Linked DNA regions of Homo sapiens. The protein of the gene in region 4 interacts with the protein of the main gene of each other region in a pairwise test. Each region holds a gene or a part of one and is shown on either strand. Other genes may lie near its edges. The genes, in order: GRAP, TLX3, FAM200C and REL.

Region 1 (7,032 bases), on a different chromosome or scaffold from region 4:
CACACTCAGACACAATGGAGACGCTCTCACACCCCCGGCACTGCCCACTGAAGTGAATGGCTCCAGCAGCCTCTCCTCTCACCAACTCAGGCCCACAATCCCAGTGCCCCCTCCCTCCTCTGGCTCTGGGAGGCTCATGCAGCAGAGCCGGCTGCACTGGATCCAGCCCTCCCGGTTCCGGGGCCATCTGGACTCAGATTCAGTTCCTCCTGCAAGCCCTGAAGTTCCCACAGGCCTTGGGAAGGGGAGTGGAGATGAGGTCTGGAGAGGCCCCAGAGGGTAGCCCCAGTCTGGGGGATTCTCAAATGCTTTGAGGCTCCACCTGGGCCTTGAAGGATGGCTAAGGTCAAGACTAGACAGAGAAAAGGGAAAAGGCATTATTTCTGGTGAGGGCCATGAGCAAGAGCCCAGCCAGGCTAGGGAAAAGGGCCAGGCTGGGAGAGGGAGTGACAGCTGGGATGCTGGGCTGTGAGATGACAGAGACAGCACCGCTTGGCCTCAGGCAGGGGCTGGCTCAGCAGGAGGGGCTGCACCCAAGCCTCACTGTCCTCTGCTGTAAAGCAGGACATTTGGACCAGGTGGGAGAAGGGGCAAGATTTGCCATTTACTGAGCACCTAGTATGTGCCACACACAGACTAGGTAGGGGCTGGCACATGCACGTTTCCCAGATTTGAGAATTCTCCAGTTCCCAGGTTGGAAAGCCCTAGAATCCCTGGGTCCCTGGCTCCCTTTCCCTTATCTCCTGTTCTCCACTCCCTGACTCTACTATATGATCAAAGAACTGCTCCAGATAACGTTCTATCTGCTCTAGATAACTTTCCAAGTATCTAAAGATGAACTTCAAATACCATAAAATTCAAAGTTGTGGTCGTTTGGGTTTGAAATCATTTTCAAACCCACCACACCCTTTCTGTCCCCTCACCCAGAGGAGTGGGGCCACCTGTATGCAGGCCCCTCCTCGGGGCCAACAGGGAGTCAGGGCCTTCTGCCTGGGTACCCGGTGCCCCAGAGGTGGAGCCACTGGGATCCCTGTCTCCAGGCTTCTCGCCTGCCCAGCTGTGGGTCACCGTCACTCCACTGCTTGAAGCAGTGCTCCTCCCCAGGCACCACGGCCAAAGTTCAGTAAACCCTGGGCTGGTTAGCACGTGGCACTAGGGAGTCATGGGGCTCAGAGGCTGCCTCTCGGAAGCCTCTGGGAGGCTTCGGAAGGCCAGACAGGGCAGGAGACACACATCTGCCTGCACACCCACCTCCGCGTCACGAGCACATGAACTAGCTCTCTTTCTGGCTGTGTGACCCTGAGGGCTGGATGCATCTTAGAGCAATGGGTTGGCCACCGGAGCCTGGGTTCAGGGTCAGAACACCTGGTGGGCTGCAATCCCAGTTCAGAACCAACAGAAGTGGGTTTCAAGAACAAAGCATCGCAATGAGGACCTAAGACCTGGAAAGTGATGCTCTGTTTGCTGAGTCCCAGCTAGACTGGACCTTCAGGGCCCACTCCTGCCTCCCTGCCTTTTTAGTGTCTCATATGCAAGTCATTTTGAGTAGCAAGTTACAAGAAGGCTATGAGAGGGGCTGAGGGATCCAAGAAGGCCCTGACTGCGTGATGGGGTCTGATGCAGCTCTCACAGGATGCGCCATTTTACCTGGGCCTTGAGGCATGAGTAGGAGTTCAAGAAAAATTCCTTCCAGTTGGAGGAAATACTGTGTGCAAATGCCTGGAGGTGTATTTAGAAGTGGTTTGGGGCTGGGCGCCGTTGCTCACACCTGTAATCCCAGCACTTTGGGAGGCCGAGGTGGGCAGATCACCCAAGGTCAGGAGTTTGAGACCAGCCAGGCCAACATGGTGAAACCCTGTCTCTACTAAAAATACAAAAATTAGCTAGGCGTTGTGGCAGGTGCCTGTAATCCCAGCTACTAAAAATACAAAAATTAGCTAGGCGTTGTGGCAGGTGCCTGTAATCCCAGCTACTCGGAAGGCTTAGATGAGATAATCGCTTGAACCCAGGAGGCGGAGGCTGCAGTGAACCGAGATCGCACCATTGCACTCCAGCCTGGGTGACAGGGCGAGACTCCGTCTCAAAAAAAAAAAAAAGGGAGAAGTGGTTTGGACCCCTTGACTGTAATGGAGTAGGGGGAATCCCATTTTGCCCTACGCCTCATACAGACCAGAGGGTGGGAAACTTGAACACATCTTTATCTTAAATCTTTCATCTTAAAACATCAATAAGGAAGGAAGCCACCCCAGGGATGACTGGTGGAGAAACTCAACCACAGGCAGGGATAGGACAGATGGAGCAGCAGATCTGGGCAGCTGGGGTGACAGACACCACCCTCTTGTTCAGGAGAACCATAGACCTGAAGGAACTCAGGCTGTGGGTGAACCCAAGCTTGCAAATGTATTGCGACCAAATTGTTTAACCAGATTTCAATTTACAACCCAGGAGAGGTAGGGGTGTGTGTGTGTGTGTGTGTGTGTGTGTGTGTGTGTGTGTGCGCGCGCGCGCGCGCATGTGTCCCATCAAGGCATCAAGTGCTTTGGACTGGTGGTTGGATCTCATTTAGCCCAAATGTGAACAAAAAGATCCCTAGCCTGTGGCTCAGGAGGCTGAGGGGCTATCTACCTCCCAGTGGCCATCCTGTGCCCCTACCCTGCCTCACCCGGCTCACAGGGCCCCAGGCTTTCCCAGCTATTAGCTCCGCCAGCCACCTGAACAGGTGCCCTCCCTCGGGGTCCTAAACTGTCTTCTTTCTGGTTGGGAGCTGGGACTGTTCTGTGTTCTCCCCACAGCCCCTAGCCCAGCCAGGTGGGCCTAGGGTGGCTCTGTTGGCAGCACCCACACAGCCCCCAGGGTCCCAGGCCTCTCAGCTCCCTTGCAAGGAGTGCACTATCGCCCACATTTGGCAGGCCAGGACGCAGAGGCCCAGAGAGGTGGGCTGGGGTCTAAGTCCAGGCAGGCTGGCTATAGAGCTGGGAAGGGTAGCTAAGGTTTGGCCAGGCAGAGAGGATGAGGCAGGGAGGGAGGGCCTCCTGGGGGGCACAGCCCAGGTAGCAACATGGCAAAGTAGAAATGGACTTGGAATGATGAGCTCTGGAACAATAGTAATAGCATAATTGGAATAATTATTATTGCTATTGTTATGTGATAATAACCAATCAGGAGGGCATTAGGCAACGTTTTACATGTATGAGCTCAAATGTGGCCCCAGCTCTGACCTTTCTTGCTGTTGTGGCTCTGGGCAGGTCGCGGCTGCACTCGGGGCCTCAGTTTCCCCACTGGGGCATGAGGATTTCAAGAAAAATTCCCTCTAGCTGGAGGACACTCTGTGTGCAAATGCCTGGAGGTGTGTTTAGAAGTGGTTTGGACCCCTTGACTGGAATGGAGTAGGGGGAATCCTGTTTTGCCCTATGCCTCATACAGATCAGAGGGTGGGAACCTTGAACACATCTTTTTTTTTTTTTTAGAGACAGAGTCTTGCTCTGTCGCCCAGGCTGGAGTGCAGTGGCGCGATTTTGGCTCACTGCAACCTCCACCTCCTGGGTTCATGCCATTCTCCCGCCTCAGCCTCTGGAGTAGCTGGGACTACAGGCACCCGCCACCACGTCTGGCTAATTTTTTTTTGTTTTTTAGTAGAGATGGGGTTTAGCCAGGATGGTCTCGATCTCCTGACCTCTTGATCCGCCCGCCTCGGCCTCCCAAAGTGCTGGAATTACAGGCATGAGCCACCGCGCCCGGCCTTGAACACATCTTTATCTGAAATCTTTCATCTTAAAACATCAATAAAGCAGCAAGCTGCCCCAGGGATGACTGGTGGAGAAACTGAAACATAGGGCCCAATTTGCTCCTCCTGGGCCGTGAGGCAGGCCAGCCACCCCCGAAGCACAGCGGGGCAGCGCTGCAGTCATGTCTGCCATGATCTTGACCCACAGCTGCACCGCCTCCAGTCCCAGCCCCACAAGGCCTGTCCTGGGTGGACACGCCGAGTGTGAGAGGTTCCAGTTAGTTCCTCTGCCCAGTCCCAGCCAGGACAGGCTCTGCCTCTGGCCAGTTTGAAAGAGCAGGCTCGGCTGGGTGCGGTGGCTCACGCCTGTAATCCCAGCACTTTGGGAGGCTGAGGCGGGTGGATCACGAGGTCAGGAGTTCGAGACCATCCTGGCTAACACGGTGAAACCCCGTCTCTACTAAAAATACAAAAAAAATTAGCCGGGCGCGGTGGTGGGCGCCTGTAGTCCCAGCTACTCGGGAGGCTGAGGCAGGAGAATGGCGTGAACCTGGGAGGCGGAGCTTGCAGTGAGCCGAGATAGCGCCATTGCACTCTAGCCTGGGTGACAGAGCGAGACTACGCCTCAAAAAAAAAAAAAAAAGAAAAGAAAAAAGAAAGAGCAGGCTCTCTCCTCCGCTGGGCTAGAAGGTACTTGGGGCGATTTGGCGATAGTGGGCTGGCTGGAAGGCTGGGCACAGACGGGAAATGAGAGAGAAAAATCCGTGGCTGGGCGCAGTGGCTCACGCCTATAATCCCAGCACTTTGGGAGGCCGAGGAGGGTGGATCACAAGGTCAGGAGTTTGAGACCATCCTGGCCAAGATGGTGAAACCCCGTCTCTACTAAAAATACCAAAAAATTAGCCGGGCGTGGTGGCGGGCACCTGTAATCCCAGCTACTCAGGAGGCTGAGGCAGGAGAATGGCATGAACCTGGGAGGCGGAGCTTGCAGTGAGCCGAGATAGCGCCATTGCACTCTAGCCTGGGTGACAGAGCGAGACTCCGCCTCAAAAAAAAAAAAAAAGAAAAGAAAAGAAAAAAGAAAGAGCAGGCTCTCTCCTCCGCTGGGCTAGAAGGTACTCGGGGCGATTTGGCGGTAGTGGGCTGGCTGGAAGGCAGGGCACAGACGGGAAATGAGAGAAAGGGGCCTGCTTGCTTCATCGGAGAGGATATAAAGTAAATGAAGCTGGACATGTAAGTGGAGCCAGATCTTGAGTCTGAAGTGTTAAGAGTTTACCCTGAGGCCAAGGGAGAAGCCACGGAAGGTTCATGGGAGGGGGAGGACGTGAGACATTCAACAGGTCTGAGCTCCTCTCATAGCAGTAGGCTTTGGTCTGAGTCAGGATGAGTCTAGGACTTGCTCCCCAAGGGACTCTGGGGCATGGGAGGAGCAGGGGAGCAGGGAGTAGGTCCAAGCTGAGGGGAACAACAAAGAGATGTGAAGGAGATGCTCTCTGATCACGACACACTCAGAGGTACCCATTTCACGTTGCCAATATGCCAGTCACTGTGCACTTATCCATAACGGAGATGTTATCATTATGAGAAAACTGAGGTTCAGAGAAGTTGAGAGACTTGCATGAGGTCACACAGTGAGAAAGTGGCCTGGTTCAGAGCCCACACCCTTAAATTAACCCCATATTCCACTGCCAGATGGGACTCCCCAGACCCCATGTGGAGCTGGGTCAGTGGGGCCTCTCCCACTTGCACCTTATCTGACTCCAGGTCCCACCGTGAGACAGGCTGGTTCCAGGTGGTAGTGAGACGGGAGCCCCTGGGACCATGCCAGGCTGGGACGGCCACCACCTGAGGTGGCCCCGGGTCCTTTCCCCTAGCTATGGAGACCAGGTGCAGCACTTCAAGGTGCTGCGTGAGGCCTCGGGGAAGTACTTCCTGTGGGAGGAGAAGTTCAACTCCCTCAACGAGCTGGTCGACTTCTACCGCACCACCACCATCGCCAAGAAGCGGCAGATCTTCCTGCGCGACGAGGAGCCCTTGCTCAAGGTAGGGGCGGGTGGGGGCTGGCCTGTGGGAGCCTCTCTGCACCTCCTGCCATCTGCAGCAGGGGAGATGCTGACACTGAGGCCAAGCACGGGCCTGGTCTCACTTCCCCAGCAGCCTGGTATTGCAAGAGGCGTCCAGCCCAGGCTTCGAAGTTATATCCTGGTGGCGGCTATGGTGAGACTTGCAAGGGTGGGAAAGGAGAAGAGGGAAAGAAAAGCAAAGGACAGAAGGAAAATCCCATGGGGACAAACTGTCTAGCTTGTTCTCAGCTCCTAGAATAGCATGTGGCACACAGTAGGTGCTCAATAAATGTTCATTGAGTGAAGGAAGGTACAGACCCCCACTGAGCATACTGGGTACCATGCACTGAACTGGTCTCTGTACTCTGGGAGCCTCATCATGCCCATTATACAGATGAGGAAACCGAGGCTCAGAGAGTGCAGTGACTCATCCAAGGACACTTACCTGGTAGGCTCAGTCCTGGTTTCTGCTCGCGGAAGAGTTGACCTTGGGTGTGGGGCAGCATGAGTGCTGGTGGGCGAGATCCTGGCAAGCCGCGGGGTGGGGGGTGGGGGGTGGGGGGTCGGGGTCATCCACCCCTTGACCTTGCAATAACAGCAATTTGCCAGCCAGCCCTTTCATCAAGGAGCCCCAAGGGCCAGCTCTGAAGCTGATTGGGATGCCAACAATAGCCACTGGGGTTATTAGCCCCAACAGGCTGTTTTCTTCAGGAGCGGGGATGCTGGCAAGGCCTGGGGCTGGAGGTCAAGACCCTGGGACACTTGAGCTTGGGCTCTGCAGAGGAGATGGGGAGTGTGGCCAAGGCCTGGGGAGAGGCTGATAACCGCTGAAGAGAAGCTCCAGCCAAATCTTGTTCCTAGCACCTCCCCACCACCTTTCCATGTGATCAGAGGCCAGTTCATCCCCTCAGTGTTCCCTCTGTTCAGTAGGATGAGCCCTGGGGTCTGATATGCCAGGGGAGTCAAACAGTGCCTTGAGAGACCCCCACTAGTTTCTCCTCTGTTGGCCTTCCCTGCCTGACCCTGAGTGCCCAGGTCACTGTGAGCTCCCAGCCTCAGGGCACTTTTCTCTCCAGCTGGGCTCCTGTCTGCCAGATCTCCATCCTCCTCCCTGTTCACCACCTGGGCCAGCTCTGCCTTGGAAGAGTGTGAGGAAGCCAGGATGGAGCTAGGGCAGGGGCAACTGAGAGCTCCCCTACACCCAACACCTCGCTCTGGCCCGGGCCGTGGGGTCACCCACCCTGT
Region 2 (7,562 bases), on a different chromosome or scaffold from region 4:
GAACGTTGCGGAAGTGGACGCGCCCTGCGCGCCGCCGCTCGGCTTCTACCGCCGCAGGGGTGGGGCGCAGGGCCGGGGGTCGCCGAGCATTATTGGAACGAAAACGAAATAAAAGCGGCGTTAAGTGAAATAGCTAACTTTTTTATTAAATAAAAAGACTTAAATAAAAGGAACGGAAAAGAAGAAGAGTGGACCCAGCCTAAACGCAGGGTGCCCCGGGCCCCTGGCACTTCCCCCAGCGGCCGGGTCGGCTGCCCTTCCTCCAGCGGCCCCCGCGGGGGAAGCAGGTGGCCGGTTTCTAAAGAAAAAAGCCAAAACTTTTTTATTATTTACACGTTTGGGCAAAAGTACAAAGTATAATACAGGCGCCCGGCCCGGGGGGTGCGGGCGGGGGGCGGAGAAACGTAAGGCGCTTTCTTGTCAGGCCCGGGCCTGGGGCGGGACGGGGCGCGGGGCGGGGGCTCGGATTGTGCGGCCGCGCGGAGCTCGGGCCCTACCCCCTTCCGCGGCCCGCCAGTCTGTGGCCGCGCCCTGGGGCCTACTCGGGCTAGGCGGCCCCTTCCCCTCTCGGCGCCGGTTCCCCCGCAGCCCGCCTGGGGGGTCCGGGGCGCCCGGCTGGGTGGGGGCGGCGATCCGTGGCGACGGTGCGCGCTGGTGGGCTCACACCAGGGAGGTGACAGCGGGAACCTTGGAACTATCCTCCTCCCAGGGCTGCAGATTCTGCAGAGCAAAGAGTGACGAGTTGTGCAGACAGAGCGGGTCAGGCTGGATGGAGTCGTTGAGGCTCTTTTGGAAGGCGTCGTGTTGCAGCTGCAGCATGAGCCGGCTCGCCTGCTGCCGCTCCGCCTCCCGCTCCTCCGCCGTCTGCCGCCTGCACCGGGGGAGGGAGAGGGACAGTACCGTCATGCACCCGGCACCGCGGGGCCGCCGGCGGGGCCCCGGCCCTCCCGGGAGCCGAGGCCATCCGGGAGCCTCGAGGCGCAGAACCCGTCTGCCTCCCAGCCCGCGCTTTACGCCCGAGGCTCTTATATCCAGGGAGCCGGTTAGGATCATTTGTTTTTGTTGTGTGCCAGAGGGTCTCCAGGAGGGGACTCTGCCCGCCGCCCACCTGCACGCCCGGGTATTGTGGCTTCACCAACAATAAAGATTGTTCCTTTCGCCAGATAGCAAGGGCAGGGCCTATGTGTAACTGACTTGGCCCTGCGGGAACCGGGGTCGCTGGGGTCCGCGGGTGAGCAGGCTGGCTCTGCACCACCCGCACGACGCCCGGGGGCTGGGTCAGTCTCATCCAGTTCGCCCAGGGCCTGTCTTGAACCCCTTTCCAGACGCGATCGCTTCGCCGTTTACGGGTTGAATCAAAACAGAGATCGGATAAAAACGCGGCTGGAATGGAGACGCGGAGATGGGGGGAGAGGAAACCGGCGTCCACGAGGATTGTTGAAAATCCGAGAGGGCGGGCTGGAAGAAGGAGGAGAAGGAGAGTGCGAGAGGCCCGTGTGTGTGCGCGTGTGTGTGTGTGTGTGTGTGCCTGTGTGTTTGGGGCGGGGGTGGGTGAGAGGAAATCAAGTGAACGCAGGAGACCGTACAAAACACGGGGAGAGAGTTGGAGGGGCTCACGAAAGATGGGGATGGGGATGGAGGAGAAACCAAGGCGTGGGAGACCACGATGGAGAGAGAAGCACAGGCCAGCGAGAAGGGTGAAAGGAAGAGGTACAATCTGCGAAGGCGGGGTGGGGGTGTGTTTGGGGGAGGCAGAGGGGGGCGGGGGTAGTGGATAGCCTTAAAATAGGGCTAGTGCGAGGCTGCGGCTCGGGGCGGGACAGGTGAAGGGCAGGTGTAAGGTGGGCCGGGTCAGGCCTCTCTCACCGCCACTTGGTCCTCCGGTTTTGGAACCAGGTCTTGACCTGCGCGTCCGTCATTTTGAGGGACTTGGCGAGCGCCGCCCTCTCGGCAGAGGCCAGGTACTTCTGGCGATGGAAGCGCTTTTCCAGCTCGCAGATCTGCACCCGGGAAAAGGACGTGCGCGGCTTCTTACGCTTGGGCGGCGTCCGGTTCTGGTAGGGGTGGCCGATGCGCCGGGTCACGGTGAAGGGCGTGAGTGCGGCCGCCGCTGCGGAGACACAGGAGGGCCCCTGAAGCCCAGCCCGGCTCCGCCACCGTTCAGGCCCCATGCGGACCCCGTGGCGCCCCGTGGGACACGGAGAGCTCCGCTATTTCGCTGGTCGCGCGCGTTTCCAGAGACACCAAGCCGGTCGGGAGACCCCCTCGCCCCCTGTCCCTTCCCCCGGGCACGGGCTTATTTTCCTGCAACTCTCCGATTACCCTCCCCACCACGGCTGCCCGGGGCCCTGGGGCCGAGGCCTCCGCCGCGCTTGGGCCTCTGAAATGGTTTCCGGGAGTGGAGCGCACAGGGCGCGGCGCCTCTGGCCCCGAGAGGGCGGAGGCCTGGAGCCTGGTCGCCAGCTCTGCTCACCTGTGAAGCGGTCTTTCACGAAGCGGCGGCTGCTCTCCATCCAGGGGAAATTGAGACCGCCAAGGCTGGAGACCGTGGGCACGGAGGGCATGGCGGGTAGCGCGCTTGGCAGAGGCGGTGGCACGGCCCCGGGCAGCGGCCTGTGCGCCGGCACCCGGATCACGCCTGCGGGCGCTAGGCTCAGGTTCACACTGTAAGATCCCGCGTCCTCGAAGGGCGCGCCGAGGCCCGCAAAGGAGGCGGGCAGAGACGGGTATGTGGCGCCCGGACGGCCCCCGGGGGGCCCTCCCAGGTAGCTGGCGCCGTCGGGGCCCCGCGGGGCGGGTGCGCTGTCCTGGTCCGGGCTGTTAAGGATCTGGTCGATGCCGAAGCTGATGGGCTCGTGCGGGTGCGGGGTCTGCGCGCTGGCGGGCGCCTCCATCCTGGGCGGGCGGAAGGGCTGGGCTGGGCTGGGCGGGGAGGCGGCTGGGTCCCCGTTACGGCGCGGCCATGGAGCGCCCGGCGCCTCTCGTCGCACTGAAACTTTGCCAAGAGTGCGCGGGCCCGACAGGCTCTGTGTCATCTTTCTTGAACCGAACCTGGAGTTTCCGCTGCTAATTCCTCTCCTGCCGCAGCCATTGGCTGCGATCAACAAGCCTCTCTCCTCTCATTGGCTCCCGGCTTTCAATAAAGGCCTAATTCATGGAAATAGGAGCTTAGGGACTGTTCCAAGGTGACATCATTTTAACAAACGAACAATAGGTCAAATTTATTAGCAGGGATAATGGGCGGCGGATATTAGAGCCCGAACCACAGCCTCCCAAACCCGAAATCTAACGAAGCTGCAATTAGCAGACGCTCCCCGCTCCTCCGGGCCGGGCCGCTTCCCAGACACCGCGCTGGGTGGGTAGAGCGCTCCGCTTGTGAAATTGTCTTTTGCTGAGTGGGTTTTCGTTTTCTTCCAATTTTTTTTTTTTTTCATCTGAGCAAAAGCCAAACCAAATGCATCCTTTCAGGTACAATGGAGTTGCAACCCCGGGACGACCCGGCGGAATCCGCAGAAGCCCCTTGGACGCTACCGCCGCCGGAGGAACGAAAGGGGCGCACTACCCGGGGCAGGCTTCGCGCTGCCTGCGCGCGGGGCGAGGGGAGCACCGTAGCGTTCTCCGCGCCCCGGATGACGCCGACCCGCGTGGGGAGAATTCGCCCCCGCCCGGGTTTCGGCCGCGGCCTCGCGGCCACTTTGGAGACACTCCCTGGCTCCGGCCAGGCGGACCGAGGCGTGACTCGCAGGTGCCCACGCGTGCCAGCTGCGGCTGGGCTAGGGACGCGGGGTCGCCCGGTGGGGAGCGGGGACCTGACTCTCGTAATTCGTTGCAGGATGGAAGGGGGCTGTGGTCGCGCGTGGGAACCCGCTCGCGGCTCGGCGGGTCTAGGGACTTCGGGTTCCTGAATGTCAAAGGCGCGGGCAGCTCCTAGAGCAAATTGCGGGATTTCTTTGGGAAACGCGACTGGTGAGCCCTTCCCGGCTCCAGTCCACTTTGGGCGCTGGAACCACTCCCCGTTCTGCTCGCGCCTCAGTGACTGTCTACCCGGCCCAGGGCACCGTGGACAGGACCGCACACGAAGTAGTCACCTTCCGCTGCAGCTTTGGGGAGACAAGCGGAATCATTTTCTTCCAGCGAATTCTAAAATCGTTAGGTGCAAACTCTTTGAGTGTCGCACCCCTGGCCTGGGTTCTTCCTCCCGCTCCTTGTGGTGTGGACAGTGGTGAGAGCTCGGATGTGCTGTTGTTGGCCAGAAGTGTGTTCAAATTTGGACTGGCCATTTCCTCGCTGAGTGACCTTGAGAAATTGACTCTATATATTTAGATTTCGGTTTTCTCGTTTGCAAAAAAGGAAAATAATGCATGCATGCGGGTTGTTCGTGAGCCGCGAGTGAGATATTGAGGGAGCGCAGAGCACTGGGCCTGGCACGTAGTAGGCACTGGGCAGCGTGGCTCACCTCCCACTCTATCCCCCCAGAGTAATGGCTGATGTATTATTGTTGTGACTCTTGTTTATTTTGTTGGCAGTTTAATTTTATTTGCAGGGGCTCAGTACGTTGGAGAGAAAGGTGTATTTGTCTACCAGTAGGGTCAGTTTCAGAGGACGGGGAAAGACAGGAGGTGCAGGTTGGGGATTCTTTCTCTCTTCTCCCAACAATCCAAAGGCGTCAGGATTTGCAGGGCCTCCAGGCCTGGGTCTGGAGTTAGGTCACTTGCCCGCTGTGTGACCTTGGGCAAATTCCTGGCCCTTGCTAAGCCTTCCTGGTGGGTGTGGAGAGGGAGGCCCAACAGTGAGGAGTGAGAGCTGCAGGATGTCTGGGGTCTGGGCAAGTGCTCCCTCACTCCCTTCCAGCGACAACGACCCTCAGATGGGGTAGATGCCATTGCCCTGGCTCCAGGGGGCCTCCTGCTTCTAATTCAGGCTCTGCCACTGGCAGTGTGGGTCCCTAACCGCCCCTCCCAGAACCGCATTTTCCTTATTTGTAAAACAAAAAGGGCACCAGCTACCCCCAGGGTGGCTGTGAGAACAAAATGAGATAACATCTGTGGCAGTGCCTGTGTGAAACTCTGGCGGTTATATCATAATAACTTTAATGACAACTATAAAGCTACTGTAGCTGAGACCCTAGCCTGTGCCAGGCAGGGAGGTGGACACTTATTTATTCTTCACAATGACCCTGTGAGGAAAGGGCTGTTAGTGGCCCCAATTTCTCACTAATGAGGGAATTGAGGCTTTGAGAGTTCAAGGGAAGCACAGCTCCCCACTTGGGGGCTGGAGTTGGCACCTCACCAGCTCCACTTCCCTTCTGGCTTCCAGTGCCCGGGACTCAGGGCTGCCCTTGTCACTTCAGACACTGTTAAATCAGGACAACAAGGCCCACCGCACAGAGGTTTGTGGCACAGAATTAAGGCGTGGGTGGCACAGCGCTGCTCCCAGCTTGTGTGCTTAAGAATGGGATTCCCACCTCAGTTTACCAGCTGTGGACTCAGGGAATTATTCATCCTCTTTATGCCTCAGTTTTCTCATCTGGTAAATAAACCTCATGGGATTAAATAAGCGCCCCAGGTAAAGCCTGGCACGGGTCAGGGCTCTGCTTCACTGCTTGGCTTCCGGCTTCCTGAGATCCACGGTCCCTCATCGTCCAGCCCTGTCATACAGATGAAGGAGCTTTGGGCCACTAATTATAAGCCTCCTTTCACTTCCTATCCAGATAGCTCTTAGGCAGCTCAGGAATGGGGGGAACTTGGTTAGTCCCTAGGACAGTGGTTCTCAGAGTGTGTTTCCAGAGCAGCAGCATCAGCATCACTGGAGAATTTGTTAGAAATGCAAATTATTGGACCCTCGCCAGACCTACGGCATCAGACACTCTGGGGTAGGACTCGGCAGTCTGTGCTTAACAAGCCCTCCAGGTGATTCTGATGCCTGCTCAACTCTGGAAGCCAGTGCCCAGAATATGGTCCATTCCATCTGAGTTTTCAAATGTGTTGTTGTAACATTGTGGGAAGATTCTCTCAGAATTTGCAACTCTCATACGAATCTGTACTAATGCCTTCCACTTCTCATTCCCCGTGTCGCTCATTCATGCCTTCTCCTGATCATACTTGCCAAAGGTTTGTTATTTTGTTGGTTTTTAAAAAAGCCTTTGATGTCATTATCCCCTTTTAAGATGCCACCTCTTTCGTGAATGTTGCGGTTTAAAAAAAGATTTATTCCTTCTTTGCTGAGTTGAAAATTTAATTTGTCAATTTTCTTTCTTTTTAAATAAATGCACTCAAGGGCATACGTTTTCCTCTAAGCACTGTTTTGGCCAGGTATGTTCTGATATGTATTTGGTGTTCCTGAGGTTGTAATTTCTTGCTGCCCTTGTAATTTACCTGCTGTCACTTGATCAGTGAGGCATACACACTGAAAGAGATTAGGAAATGAGAATTGTAAGAACTGGGGATGAGGATTCCCGGGGCTAGAGAGACTTTCAGAATGGAGCACATCCTCTCCTCTTCCCCAAGAAGAAGCTGGAAGAAAGGGGTACAGCTGGTGGAGGCTTTGCCGAGAGTCATCTAGAAGAGGGTGGGGCTTCAGGGATGACAGGCAAGATGCTGGGATTTCCAGCTGGCCCATGAGCCCAGCTGTGGGAGGCCAGGTTCCTCCAGGATCATTCTGCCATTGACTTCCTGAGGGAAATGAGACTCCATTTCCCTGTCTGTGAAATGGGGTAGAGACTGAATCAGGACTTTAAATGTATTTGGGTCAGCTACCCTATTTGAAACACGGATGAAAATATTGTGGTCTGCTTCCATAGAAAAAGACAGAAACACATAATTTGGCACACACACCATGTCACAGGTTGCTGACCTGCCATGCTGTTCTTGGCTTACACACCCTAGTTAGGAGTCCCTAGGGGCCCTTCCAGTTTTCCTGATGGGAGGCTCTAAAGACACTTGCCGAAATTTATTCGCCCATTCATTTATTTATTCAACGAATATTTACTGAGCACCTACTCACATTTCCTGGACCATTCCCCAGTGCAGGGGCTTGCTTTCCCCATCTAACAGTGGGCACAAAGCAGTCTGAGCTCTTCATCACTGCTTCCCCCAGTGGGCAGGACCTAGGGAAGAACCTTCCTGAGGAGGTCTGATCAGTCTCAAGACTCTGCCAGCCAGTGGAAGGAAAAGGCCTTCAGATGTCGGCTGTTGCTTGGGACCCCCCACTGCAGGTCACGAGGCTTCAAGGACAGTTGACTTAGGGAAACAGTCTCTTGTCCAAGGGCATGTAGTAGACAGGGGTGGAGCTGGGATTTGAACCCAGGACTGTTTAGACTACAAAGCCCACATATTCCCCTTTACCTCACACCCCTCTTTGGGGGTAGGTGGTAAAGACTCTTAAGTCACAGGACTGAGTGGGGAGGGGAAGCAGTGCAGGGTCCGGGTGAATGAGCCCAAGAGTGGCGGTGAGGGCTGGCCATAGTGGGGCTCACTTGTCTCCCCTACTGGCTTGGGAGTTCCTTTTGGGCAAAATGCTGTTAGTGGCATTTGATCCCATGTCCCAGGGCTGGGTCCAGGGCG
Region 3 (7,352 bases), on a different chromosome or scaffold from region 4:
AATAGTAACTAGAACAGTGATCTGTGACAAGAGACACCATATCATCACAATCACTGGGAAACCCTTTCAAAATATACACGTCCCTGCACTACCTTAGAACTAATACATATCTTCTCCAGAAGCAGAACAAAAGAATATGAAATAATGTTGTTCAGGCAGTCCTGAAACACAACCTGGTTAAGTAGTCAGGCTTAGGGGAATAAAAACGTATCCTTCAAACCAATCCTTAGCTAACAAATATTCTAGGTTTCTAAGTGAATGGTCCCAATGCTTTAATAGATATTTAAATTTTCTACATTTTCTGAGTTGATGACAGCCTCCTATGAAAGTTGAAACCTAAAATGAAAGCCATATCTTTTCTCTTTCTCTCCCTTTAGCAACGAGTAAAGGCATAATCCACAGGTAGGCTCAAATATACCTTAGAAAACATTCTATCTCCAAGATAAGTAAGTGATCCCCAAAGTTTCCAAAGTTCTGTGCCAGAGAATGTGGCTGAAATAAAGTAACAGGTACACATTTAAATCTGAATGCCCACTTTGGACATTAAAAGAAAAATCACAAGCCAAGAATATCCACTTAAAGCATTAGCTTTCAAGTGGATCTACCAAGATGAACTAGTTGTAAAGTGTACTCCAATAAAATAAGCTGAGCTGTTACAAGGTTGTTATGAGCCTGTTAAATTGGAGGATGTCTGCCAATCAAAAAAGACAACCTGAAGTTTAAAGAGCTGATCTTAAGACTTCTTTTGTCAAGTAATGAGACTACATGACCACTTTTGCTTAGAACCACTTCTAATTAATGACGATAAAATTATGACATTACCATAAATGCTTATTTTTCTGTATTCTATTAATGTATATTTATCATGTAATATTTGGGGAGGAAGAGGGAATAAAGGAAAATGTTTTTAGTCACATTAGAAATCATTACAAGAGGGGCCCTGCACGGTGGCTCACGCCTGCTACCCCAGCACTTTGGGAAGCCAAGGCGGGCAGATCACTTGAGGTCAGGAGTTCCAGACCAGCCAGGCCAACATAGTGAAACTCTGTCTCTACTAAAAATACAAAAATTAGCTGGGTGTGGTGGCGCATGCCTGTAGTCCCATCTACTCGGGAGGCTGAGGCAGGAGAATCGCTTGAACCCAGGGGGCAGAGGTTGCTGTGAGCTGAGATCATTGCAGTGAGCTGAGATCACGCCACTGCACTCCAGCCTGGGTGACACAGCCAGACTCTGTCTCAAAAAAAGGCTGGGTACGGTGGCTCATGTCCATAATCCCAGCACTTTGGGAGGCCGAGGAAGGCGGATCACCTGAGGTCAGGAGTTTGAGACTGGCCCTGCCAACTTGGCGAAACCTCGTCTCTACTAAAAATACAAAAATTAGCTGTGCATGGTGATCCCAGCTACTGGAGAGGCTGATGCAGGAGAATCGCTTGATCTGGGAGGCAGAGGTTGCAGTGAGCCGAGATGATGCCACTGCGCTCTCCAGACTGGGTGACGGAGTGAGACTCTGTCTCAAAAACAAAACAAACTGGAAATCATTACAAGATCTGTTAAGAGTCCATTCCTATCCACCTTGACTATGTCTCTCAAGTATATTTTAATTTAAAATTTATCTGTTTTGAACAGTTTTAGGAAAATCAATTTAAAGTATTCTTCTCCATAACCCTCAAAAAGGGAGAACAGGTGGCAAGAATTTTCAAGGGCCTCAAAGATGAACTTACTGCCCAAGAGGCTTGTGTTTTAGAACCTCACAATTTGCACTTGCGCTTTTGTGGTATTTAGGAATTACAATATCCTAAAAAACGTAAACATTAAAAAGCATCATGATAAGGAGATATTGTTAAACAGGCATGATAATGGTATTGTGGTTGTGTTTTTAAAAAGTCCTCATTTGTTAGATACAGACAATTATTTACAAGTGAAATAAGATGTCTGGGATTCCTTTGAAATACGTACTTCAGCACACTCACAAACATGCACAAAGCGGGGTGGAGATAAAAGAAATGACTGGCCTTAAGTTGGTAACTCTTGAAGCTGGATGATGGGTATACATCATTACACCGTTCTATTTTAATGTATTTTGGAAACTTTCCATAATAAAAAGATAAAAAGCATTATCTTAAGATAGATATCACTCATTTTAAGCATGATTCTTTTGAGAGATTATCTTCAGATGCTTAATGAAAGATCTGATATAACAAAGTAAAATGTTTTTGCAAGTTTATGAAGGGTAGATATGAAAAAGTATTACAAATGAGAAAAATCAGTTAAAAGTGAACACTCACAAAACAAATATTTAGGGAATGCTAATATATATATATTCCAGCAGTGAAAACACCAAAGTGCAGCTGTAAACCTAAAACTCCAAACCAAATACAATTCAACTTCTTTCTAGCCACTGCGTATGCAAGATCATGATAGGCGCAGGTGTCTGGGGAGGCAGAGCATTTAACCATTACATTTTACAGTTAAAATCAATAGCCAGGAGAATGGGGGCAGGAACTTGGTGGCTGGGCAGACGCTCCAGGGGCAAACGCCTGGGATCGTGGCTTTGTCACTTACAGGATGGGACCTTTCCAAGCCTCAGTTCCTCCAGAGGGGATAACAGTACCTACCTTACAGGGTTGTTAGGAGATTTAATTATAAGAATGCATGCAAATAACAAGCAGCTCTTAACTGATAGGACCTGATGGTGTTACTGTTAAGGACGGAGATTTTTACAGCCTCCCGGGTGAGATAAGAACGCCAGCTGCTAGGAAAAAAAAAAAAAAGACTCAGCGCGGTCTCCGCCCGCCCGTCTCCAAGCCTGAGGCGCAGGCCTATGGGATGCACGGGCTTCTTTTAGGCGCCCGTTTCAGGCTCCAGTCCCACTCTCCGCTCAGCCTAGGGCCCAGCCTCTGGCCGTCGGAACCAGTAGAGACGGCGGTTCCTCGGGTCCAACCCCCGGGCAGGAATCTGCGGTGCGCCTGGAGAGAGAAGCATCCGCAACAACCTCCGCCTCAGCCAGGCCCGGGTTCCATCCGGGTTCTCCAGGGTGCTTCCCGCCCGCAAACTGGGAGAGGCGTCTCCCACACGCAGGCGCAGTAGCAAAGGGCTGTGGGATGGGCTGGCTGGCTTGAGTATTGAGCATGCGCGCTAGCCCTTCCCAATTTTTTTTTTAAGATTGTGTACGTGGAACAAGAAATCGTTTGTTTATTGTGTCTGCCAGAGAGGATGAACTGTACAATTTCAGGAATGGAAGGGGCTGTAAACTCCACATAGTTCTTTTTAACATGCAGAGCACTTAAACTTTTATATTGTGTCGGGCTTTGAGCTTGGAGATAAAACGCCTGATAATTGCCATGTTCCATGTGGAATAAATGAGAGAAAAAGAGAAGGAAGCTCATTGTAATTTCAGATTAGACATTTCAGCAGTGGAGGATGAGCTTCCATAGCTTGTGTACTGTTGCCTATGCAAGCTGATCCCACTTTCCGTAAGTGGGAGCATAGGGATGAATTTCCATGTCATCATCATATATCTGAAATATTTTTATTTTAAATTCTTTCAACAACATGATTTCAAAGAAATAAACCCATATTAGAGAGGTTTTAGAGAAAAATCCCAAGTAGAAACTAGGAAACGTTGTTGAAAGAAACCGGAATATAGCCCTTTCCTGTTTGGGGGTCTTTCCAGAATTCTTATAAACTTAATGAGTTTACTCATTTTTGTACAATCTTGTTAGAAGCATTCCATAAGACTAGTGTGTGTGAGGAGTGGTGGGGCGTCAACGAATGTGGGCCAGATACATCATTTTCAGGTGTTAAGGGTGAGCCTGGTAAATATTGACGGGCTGCTGAAGTTTTTTGTGGATGGAAGAAACTGCTAAAGACCAGCCTTGTTGGTCAAGAAATTAGGGCCTTCAATACTAGAGAAAGGGGTAGGCTTCAGAATCCCACAGCTAGCTTCATGTCCTGACTCCAACGGTTAGGATTTGTGCAGGTTACTTGGAGTTAATTCCATGTGCTTTTTGTAAAACTTACATATCATCCATTACCCCATGAAATTCTTTTGAGGAAGGAGATAACATTATGACAATTACAGTACATAATTCTCGCACTCAAAAGGCAGCTATTATTGAGATAATAAAATCAAAGCTCAATCTGAGTAATGTCCTAGGCATTATGTTTTTTTCTTTTTTTTTTTTTTTTTTTTTTGAGACAGGGTCTCATTCTGTTGCCCAGGCTGGAGAGCAGTGGCGCAATCTCAGCTCACTGTAACTTCTTGAACCGGGTTCAAGCAATTCTCATGCCTCAGCCTCCTGAGTAGCTGGGATTATAGGCGTGTGCCACCATGCCCAGCTAATTTTCGTATTTTTCATAGAGACAGGGCTCTGCTATGTTGGCCAGGCTGGCTAGGCATTACTTTTCCAAAATAAAACAGAAGACATGATTCTGGATATTACAGAATTCTTCCTAAATCTAAGTAAACCAGGCCTCATAGAAGAGGGAAAGAGGTCCAGAAAGGTTAGGTGACAAGATGCTGAAATTTTCTTAAACTCACAGAAGCTAATCCAGGTTCCCCTCCCTGTCCCATAAACAACTTTTCTGCCAAATATTAGAAATAATGCTACAAACCACTCACAGTTAAGTATTGTCATTTATGTATCTTTAACAAAAGATAAAATACAAAACGGACACAACATCAGCCTTTATGTTGAACCACCCTGTTTAGGTAGGAAAATGAACATTGTTTTTCATTCTTAAAGTAAATAGGAATTAAATCTATTTGCATTGCTGTTTAATTTCATACCAATCTAAAGCTCGACACTATGTATATCCAAAGTACTTGACAATTTGACTCAGTTACTCACACCACTGTTTCTGAGATGCTGACTTAATGCAGTATCCTACAGGTGGTTTTTGGTAGTTTAGAAAAGCCAGTGAGTGGGCTGTTAAAAGTTGATATACTGATGTCAGAGGTTTTGTTAGGCTGTTTTCACTGATTCTACTGTCAGTATTATCTTCACAGTGTTCTGAGAAGAGGCTTCAGGATCATGGCAATCTATTACTAATATCCCTAGAAGCTATCCTTATAATTCTTTCAATAAACCAACTTCAGGTTTTGTTTTTTTGCAAATTTTACAAACAAAGTAACAGCTGCTGGCTATAAATATTAGGATATTCTACAATTTAAAAAATCTAATATTCATGATTGTTACATAGGGGCAATCACAATGAAAACAAACGGTAATGTAAACCATATCCTCTATGATAAAGGAAAGGATTTCTACACCTAGACTTATGTCCAGAATGGTAAAAGACCTACTACTGATCAGTCAATATTGACCCAATGATGAGAAAATAGTTGTTTTCCATTCAAAGACTAACACATTTAGTCTACTCCAGAGGCCAAGGAAGAGAGAATCGCTTGAGCCCAAGACTGCAGGGCATTATGACTTTGTCTGTGAAAAGCCACTGCTCTCTAGCCTGGGCAACATAGCAAGATCCTGTCTCTAAAAAAAATAAAAATAAATGTAGTCACAGAGTTGCTAGTAATTATTTAAAAAAACAAAGCCCTGTTTTTTTCTCAAAACCAAGGTGTGCTAATACTAAATATAGGGCCACAAAAATCGAAGCAATAAAGTTTGAAGCTTAATAAATACAGAGAAAGAGACATTCTTAATAGGTAGAGAGCCAAGGCTTTTTTACATGACTCACATAAAACTGGAAATAGGCCAGGCGCGGTGGCTCACGCCTGTAATCTCAGCACTTTGGGAGGCTGAGGCGGGTGGATCACAAGGTCAGGAGATCGAGACCATCCTGGCTAACACGATGAAACCGTCTCTACTAAAAATACAAAAAATTAGCTGAGCATGGTGGCGGGCGCCTGTAGTCCCAACTACTAGGGAGGCTGAGGCAGGAGAATGGCGTGAACCTGGGAGGTGGAGCTTGCAGTGAGCCGAGATCGCGCCACCGCACTTCAGCCTGGGCGACAGAGCAAGACTCCGTCTCAAAAAAAAAAATAAATAAATAAAAAAAACTGGAAATAAAATCTTAATCCAATTTTAAATTCTATTCCCAAAAGCACACTTCATGTGCCTCTTCTTCTTTTCTTGTTTCCTCAGTATGGAAAGGAGTGAACTTACTGTGAGGCATCTGAAATATTTATTAAAGCCAGGCAGCAAGAAGAATAAACAAGGATTTTTCTATCTACAATCATCAATAAGAAGCTGAAAAGAATGTATCAGCTGCATCTATCTTGGATGGTCTTCTGACTAGTTGCTACTGTCCAAGGAAAGAGGCCATGGGGTCATCTGGCCTCTGACGTTTCATTCTATATGCCTCCATTTCCTCTTCAGTAGGTTCTCGAGTTTCATACATGCTATTGTAAGGCCGCTTCCTCTCATCAATCTGCATGGTCTCCTTGACATGAAGAAGGCGGGCCTCCTCTGCGTTCAGTGCCTATAGTGAGAGGAATAAAATGTGTATCACAGCTCTACATCAGATGTCTTTTCTTCAAAAGTGGCAGAGTACCAACACACCCCACTGAATATGAACTGCTCTATCAAAAACGCAGATTGCCTGAAAGAGCTTTGGAGTCAGCCCTTCTACTGTCAAGCTACAACTAATCACTATTTGGCTTATATGATATTTTTATACAGCACAAAACATTCTATAACATTTTAAATCAATGTTGAAGAAATTTTATTTAATAACAAAAATTAAATGAGGTTCACTTTACTTATACAAGCTCACAAATGATGCTTCTGGTAGAGACTACAATTCTGACTTTTCTCAAGGACTTGCCAAAACTTACAAACTACGGAGCTAGAAGGCAATTCTTTCCGGTCAACATGCCAATAACTCTAAAATGCTTTAGAATGCACATTTCTTCTGTCCATTAGTCATAATTACTAAATACTCCAAGAAGAAGGCAATACCTACACCTCACAATATCTCCATTAATATAACTTGAGCAAATCACTCAGACTCTAGGCTTGTTTCATCATTGTAAAAATGCATTTGGAGACAGGACTAGATCACAGGCCATTACAAATAAAGGCCTTGACAAATAATACTGGCAAGAACGGTGGCTCATGCCTGCAATCCCAGCACTTTGGGAGGATGAGGTGGGCAGTTCACCTGAGCTCAGAAGTTTGAGACCAGACTGGGCAACATGGTGAAATCCTGGCTCTATAAAAAAATACAGAAATTAGCTGCACATGGGGGCATGTGCCTGTAATACCGGCTACTTGGGACACTGAGGCAGAAGAATTGCTTGAGCCTATGAGGTGGAGCTTGCAGTGAGCTGCGGTCGTGCCACTGCACTCCAGCCTGGACAACAGAGCAAGACCCTGTCTCAAAAAAATAAA
Region 4 (7,000 bases):
CGCCACCACACCCGACTCATTTTGTATTTTTAGTAGAGATGGGGTTTCACCATGTTGGCCAGGCTGGTCTCAAACTCCTGACCTCAGGTGATTCACCCACCTCAGCCTCCCAAAGTGCTGGGATTGCAGGTATGAGCCACTGCGCCTGGCCAATTTTTCTGTTTTTTTATGGAGACAGGGTTTTGTCATGTTGCTTAGGTTGGCCTCAAACTCCTGCGCTCAAGTGATCCACCTGCCTCAGCCTCCCAAAGTGCTGAGATTACTTTAAACAATTTTTTACTAAGAGAAAAATATCCTTTTCTACTGATACTACTGATTTGGGACATATTCTATAATACTTATTAAATCCAACTTACATACATATTTATTGAAAACATTTTCTATATGTGAATAAAATATTTGTTTATTAAAGGAGAGGATACAATCCTATAATTTTTTATCTGCTTTCCTGGTTTCTTTCTAATCAGATACTTACGGCAATAAAGCAAAGAAACAAAAGACAACTCTGCTTTTCCAGAAACTGTGCCAGGATCACGGTAAGAATAGTTTGGATCGATTCATATTTAAATAGGTTTTGTTTTATTTACTTTATTCAGTTTTTCAAATTTTATTATTTTTGTTTTGTTTTGTTGTTTGTTTGTTTTTTGAGATAGCATCTCTCTCTGTCACCCAGGCTGGAGTGCAGTAGGGCAATCTCAACTCACTGCAACCTCTGCCCCCCAGGTTCAACAATTCTCCTGCCTCAGCCTCCCGGGTAGCTGAGATTACAGGCATGTGCCACCACACCCGGCTAATTTTTGTATTTTTAGTAGAAACAGGGTTTCGCCATGTTGACCAGGATGGTCTTGAACTCCTGACATCAGGTGATCCACCCACCTTGGCCTCCCAAAGTGCTGGGATTACAGGTGGGAGCCACCACGCCCGGCCAGTTTTTCAGATTTTAACTGATAATGTTATTTTTCAAATGACATTTAATAATGGAAAAACTTTATCCTAACAGTTAATTTTCCTGAGAGACCAAGACCTGGTCTCCTCGGTTCAATTGGAGAAGGAAGATACTTCAAAAAAGGTATTTTATTTCCTATAGCATATTTCTTGTGATCAGAAAGACCAGTACTTTGCACAATATATTGGAATTCTATTTTTAGGAATGAATAACTGCTTCTTTGAAAATTTTCTCTCCAGATTTTTCATGCTTTCAGTATAGAATGAATTAAGCATGGCTTCTGAAGGTTGTGTTAGAAACTGATTATGTTTTTGGGATTTATTGTTCAAGAAATTACATGTTGTTCATATGGTAGCAATTTTATTAATTACATTGCGTTATGAAAAAATGTTACTGATTTGGTTAGTTACCTGTTTTTATAAATAACATTTTACTGGAACACGGCCATGAATATTTGATTAAATATTATCTCTAAACTGCTTTTTTTTTTTAACACTATGGCAACAGGGTTGAATAGTTCCAACAGAGGCTGTATATAGCTCACAAAGCCTAAAATATTTACAATCTGACTTTTTACAGAAAAAAAAATTGCCAATCCCTAGTTTAGGTAATTCAACCGAGGGCTAATTAGAAGAAGTCTTTTTTCCCCCACGTACATTCTTAAATCATTGCTTTTTCCTGGTTTAGTTTGTAAAGCATTTGTATAATATGTAAATAGATACAGAATTAATTTTTTCTGTAATTTTTTTCTGACTGTGAATTTTATAGTCTCTTAGGGTTCTGTTGTAATATATCTTAAAAGTTATGTGTATTTTCTTATCCCTAATGAGTGTTGTCTCCATCCTTCCATTTTCTCCTAAAAGTGAAGAGTAAGAGATGATTTTGGCTATTTGGAATCCCATTAATTGTAATTCTAATATTTATCTTTTAGTTTTCAAAAATACCTTTATAGAGCCTCAGAAACTAGATTTTCATATTTAATTGAAGTGAAATTACATATGCCAAAGTAACTTGCCAAAATCATTTTACCTGTATTTGTAAAATGGTATATACGTTACAGAATTTCATTTTGGATTCGTGTAATAATTTTAGTGCTTTTTACATTTTTTTATTTGAAATGTTACATTGGTTTCCTTGACATTTTTCTTTATATATATTTGTGTGCTTATGCAATTTTAATTTAGAAATGCTTTTTATAATTTTGTTCATTTTAATTTCGTAAAATAAATTTTTCCTCCCACAGAACCAAACTTGTTTTCTCATGATGCAGTTGTGAGAGAAATGCCTACAGGGGTTTCAAGTCAAGCAGAATCCTACTATCCCTCACCTGGGCCCATCTCAAGTGGATTGTCACATCATGCCTCAATGGCACCTCTGCCTTCTTCAAGCTGGTCATCAGTGGCCCACCCCACCCCACGCTCAGGCAATACAAACCCACTGAGTAGTTTTTCAACAAGGACACTTCCTTCTAATTCGCAAGGTATCCCACCATTCCTGAGAATACCTGTTGGGAATGATTTAAATGCTTCTAATGCTTGCATTTACAACAATGCCGATGACATAGTCGGAATGGAAGCGTCATCCATGCCATCAGCAGATTTATATGGTATTTCTGATCCCAACATGCTGTCTAATTGTTCTGTGAATATGATGACAACCAGCAGTGACAGCATGGGAGAGACTGATAATCCAAGACTTCTGAGCATGAATCTTGAAAACCCCTCATGTAATTCAGTGTTAGACCCAAGAGACTTGAGACAGCTCCATCAGATGTCCTCTTCCAGTATGTCAGCAGGCGCCAATTCCAATACTACTGTTTTTGTTTCACAATCAGATGCATTTGAGGGATCTGACTTCAGTTGTGCAGATAACAGCATGATAAATGAGTCGGGACCATCAAACAGTACTAATCCAAACAGTCATGGTTTTGTTCAAGATAGTCAGTATTCAGGTATTGGCAGTATGCAAAATGAGCAATTGAGTGACTCCTTTCCATATGAATTTTTTCAAGTATAACTTGCAAGATTTAAATCCTTTTAAATCTTGATACCACCTATATAGATGCAGCATTTTGTATTTGTCTAACTGGGGATATAATACTATATTTATACTGTATATATAATACTGACTGAGAATATAATACTGTATTTGAGAATATAAAAAACTTTTTTCAGGGAAGAAGCATACAACTTTGGACATAGCGAATACAAAATTGGAAGCTGTCATAAAAAGACAACTCAGAGGCCAGGCGCAGGGGCTCACACCTGTAATCCTAGCACTTTGGGAGGCCAAGGCGGGTGGATCACTTGAGACCAGGAATTCGAGACCAGCCTGGCCAACATGGTGAAACCCCGTCTCTACTAAAAATACAAAAATTAGCTGAGCATGGTGGTACGTGCCTGTACTGTCAGCTACTTGGGAGGCTGAGGCACAATAATTGTTTGAACCCAGGAAGCAGAGGTTGCAGTGAGCTGAGATCACACCACCGCACTCCAGCCTGGGTGACAGAGTGAGACTCTGTCTCAAAAAAAAAAAAACAAAAAAAACACACTTTTTTATATTTCTTTTTATAATGTTTTAATGTATTCTTAAATTTCAAGCAAATTTAAGATAAAACTTGTAATGGCTATGCCATTGAAAAACTTAATTTTTTATTTTTGAGGCCCATGGGCCAAGGTAACCCCTAAGGGGTTTTCTTAGGCTTCTTGGAGCTTAGATTTGTATGTATATCAAAATGTCTTTAAAATGTTAAGTTGGGCAGAAGGCAGTTGAAGTGAGCTTTCAAGGTATGGGAGGTTTTCTACATTTTATACTATTTCAATCTATGCCTTTAAAGTTGCTTATGATTTTAGCTGTACACTCATTTTTTAAGGGGAAGAAGTTTCCTTGGACCATTCGCCTTTCTTAGATGTCCTCACTCCCTGTGATCTCATAAAACTGCCTATTTGACATCTCTATCTAGAAATCTAATTAAAGCTCACACTCAGCATATCCAAAACTGAATTCTTGGTCTTCCCTCCCAAACTTGCTTCTCCTTCAGTCTTCTCCAACTCAGTAAATGGCAATGCCATACTTCTGGTTGCTCAGGCCAAAAACCCTGAAGTCATCCTTGATTCTTCTTTTAGCACCCATATCCAATCCATTAGCAAATCTGGTAGACCCTACCTTCACAATATATCTAAAGCTGACCACCTCTTTTGACCTCTACTATTAACGCCCTATTCCAAGCCACCATCATCTCTTCCCTGGATTGAAGCTGTCATCTACAAAAATTCTTCTTATATCCTTGCATTCCTACAGTCTGTTCCCCATAAAGTAGCCAGAATGATTATTTTTAAAACAAGTCAACTCATACCATTCATCTGCTCAAAACCATTCATTGGCTTCTCATCTCACTCAGAGCAGTCAAAGTCCTTAAAAGTTGCAGGCCTAGACTCCCTGTCCTACCTCAGGTACCACCATATCCCACCTCCTCATGCAGCTCCAGGCACCTTGGCCTCAGTGCTCCTCAAAGCATCAAGTATGCACTTGCCTTGGACAGTCTGTACTTGGTATTCCCTCTGCCTTGAATGTTGTTCTCCCAGAAAAATGCATAGTTCACTCTTACATCCTTCAGGTGTCACTCCACTGTTACCTGAGCAGGTCGTCCTTGAATATATACATCAGCATTCCCTTTCCCCCCTGCTTTATGTATGTCCATAGCACTCACCACGATCTGACTTTACTAAGTATTTATTCATTTACTGTTTGTTTTCCCATACCGAAATATAAACTTTCTAAGGACAGAAATTTTTGTGCTTTATTGTTGAATCTCCAATTTGTAGAAAAATGCCTACCTTATATTAAACACTCAGTAAATGTTTATTGAACATTAAAAGTATTACTAATAGAACTTTGGTTTTTGAAAGAAATAATAACTTTAATTATAAGACGTATATGATTTTTGCAGTTTTACTTAGTGTGACATTGGGTTTATGAGAATCGTGTACATTCAAGTCCAGGAATAATAATGGTCATCCAAATTGTTTGAAAGGAAAATAATCCCAGTGGCAAAATGATGGTAGAATTTGGGTAATCTTTTTTTTCCTTTTATGAAAAGAGATTTTATTGAAGGTAAAACATTAGAGGTTCATTGAGAATCTCTAAATCCATGTTTTGACATTGTCAAGCTCATTGCAACTTCCAGATTGAGTAACACTTATAACACATTTCCTTTTCAAAGTGCAAGATTTTTAAAAGAGACTTGTCACATATTCATTTGGCTGGTTTCAAATGGTGAGCTGAATGCTGGGTAATCTCTACTAGCTCCTTAATCAGATTTAAAATTCTCAGTGTTTCCTAGTTGTTTCTGCATACTTTATGTGAGTTGTTATAGCTGTAACATTACACTTTATTTGCTGTTTGTGTTTCGTGACTTTTGGTAATTCTGGCATTTAGAAACCTTTCACTTTGCTTCAAAACGTAGTTATATTTTGGAGTTTTCATTTGATATATAATTATTTATTTTGCCCTTTTATTTCCCAAAGACATTGTAAGGGTTAATTAGATCATTATATTTTATTATTACAGATTAAAGTTGGGCAGTAATCTTAATTATGATGGAATTATCATTATGCTAAGTAATTAACTTTACCTAGTTTGTTTTACAACTAGAACCTGCCCTAAATGTTGAATATCTTCCTAGCAAGAAACAGTCTGTCATTTTACTTACACGATGTCTAACCAAACCATAACTTTACATAAACTAGTCGTTTCGGTCAAATAGAAAAATGTGTGAATGCCATAAAAACAAAAATTCTCAGTTAAATGATACTGGGAAATAGGGAAGACAGCAAAGTGAGACTTGGGCTCAGGATGGTTCAGGAAGAAAAAAAAAGAAAGACCCCTGAGTACCATTAATATTCCTCAGAAATTATTATTTCAAAAGGAAATATTTCTGTATTATAAATTTTTCATGAGCAGCCATTATGAAATCTCACAAGAATCATAGAATTCAATAAAAAAGGTAGAAAGTAATTTTTTTACTTAAAAATATAAATTAAAATAAATTTTTAAAATCATAAGCACATAAATAGAACTTACCAGGGAGAAAGAAAAACCTGAAGGCACAATTTCTTTTCTGTTCAAAATGTGAACCCAGGATGTCTCTAGATGATGATGGATGATAGGTGGGGAGATTTTTTTTTTTTTTAATACAGAATCTCATAGTTTTGGATTAATTAGCACCAATCAGTTTAAACACTGACTGTTAGAATAGCTGCATGGGTTTTTTTCTTTAAACTAATTAAGCGTTGGCTACTTAGTATAAGTAAGTATAAGCCGAATTAAGGTTCTGCTACATCTGTGTTTAGAATATTTTTTTAAAACTAAATAAGTGTTGGCTAGTTTTGCGGTGTAAGCAGAATTAAGGTTCTGCTACCTCTGTGTGTAGAATATTCCCAATGGATTTTTCATTTTTCAGGTGCTATTTTTTGACCCTGTATAGACTTTAATTTAAAATGAATTTGGTAACGTTTCTCCTCTGTCTCTACATATATTCATGCTTTCACCTGCTCTTTTAACACCTGCTTTTAGTATCTGAGGCACTTTTTCTGAACTCTACTTGTGCACTGGATCCCTCCTCCTTTCTCTGCCAGGCTGTGTTTACTTTATCCTTACATCACCACTTAGTGATTCCTTTCTTTGTATAAACATGGTAAATGTCTTCATTAGCCTAAAAGGAAAGACCAAATAAAACCTTTCCTACCACTTGGATGCATTTGCATCCTGACTTCTGAAATGCCTCCAGCCTCCATTTTCTCCCTTCCCAGTTATTCCTTAGCCCAGCCATCTCTGTCTTTAGCTCCTACAATTTTCTTAGGATATTCTGGGAAAGATGAGCGGAGACTGCCCGCCTTGTCAAATCTAGTGTCTTTTTTTCAGTCCTCACACTGCTTGACCTATGTATAACCTCCTATACTTCCCTCTTTGCATACTCCTCTGGGTTTTCTGTGGTAGTCAAGATTCCTCCCTGAGATTTATTTCCCATGAGTCTTGACCCCTCCCCTCAGTTGG

What was found.
Region 1: the proteins of REL (region 4) and GRAP interact in binary tests that used the Homo sapiens proteins (3 or more experiments, as listed by UniProt).
Region 2: the proteins of REL (region 4) and TLX3 interact in binary tests that used the Homo sapiens proteins (3 or more experiments, as listed by UniProt).
Region 3: the proteins of REL (region 4) and FAM200C interact in binary tests that used the Homo sapiens proteins (3 or more experiments, as listed by UniProt).

What each region holds. Positions count from the first base shown.
Region 1 is NC_000017.11:19,022,950-19,029,981, reverse strand, and holds part of GRAP (GRB2-related adapter protein), read left to right. Parts: intron 1-5,488; coding exon of another isoform or gene 5,489-5,573; exon of another isoform or gene 5,574-5,592; intron 5,593-5,598; coding exon 5,599-5,767; intron 5,768-7,032. UniProt on the Homo sapiens protein: Couples signals from receptor and cytoplasmic tyrosine kinases to the Ras signaling pathway. Plays a role in the inner ear and in hearing.
Region 2 is NC_000005.10:171,304,698-171,312,259, reverse strand, and holds TLX3 (T-cell leukemia homeobox protein 3), read right to left. Parts: upstream 3,013-7,562; 5' UTR 2,895-3,012; coding exon 2,474-2,894; intron 2,111-2,473; coding exon 1,867-2,110; intron 872-1,866; coding exon 661-871; 3' UTR 121-660; downstream 1-120.
Region 3 is NC_000005.10:160,397,024-160,404,375, forward strand, and holds the start of FAM200C (protein FAM200C), read right to left. Parts: upstream 3,032-7,352; 5' UTR 2,616-3,031; intron 493-2,615; exon of another isoform or gene 419-492; intron 1-418. Other genes in the region: pre-mRNA-splicing factor SLU7, read right to left, coding at 6,262-6,441.
Region 4 is NC_000002.12:60,919,574-60,926,573, forward strand, and holds part of REL (proto-oncogene c-Rel), read left to right. Parts: intron 1-467; coding exon 468-536; intron 537-809; coding exon of another isoform or gene 810-905; intron 906-1,000; coding exon 1,001-1,069; intron 1,070-2,189; coding exon 2,190-2,962; 3' UTR 2,963-7,000. UniProt on the Homo sapiens protein: Proto-oncogene that may play a role in differentiation and lymphopoiesis.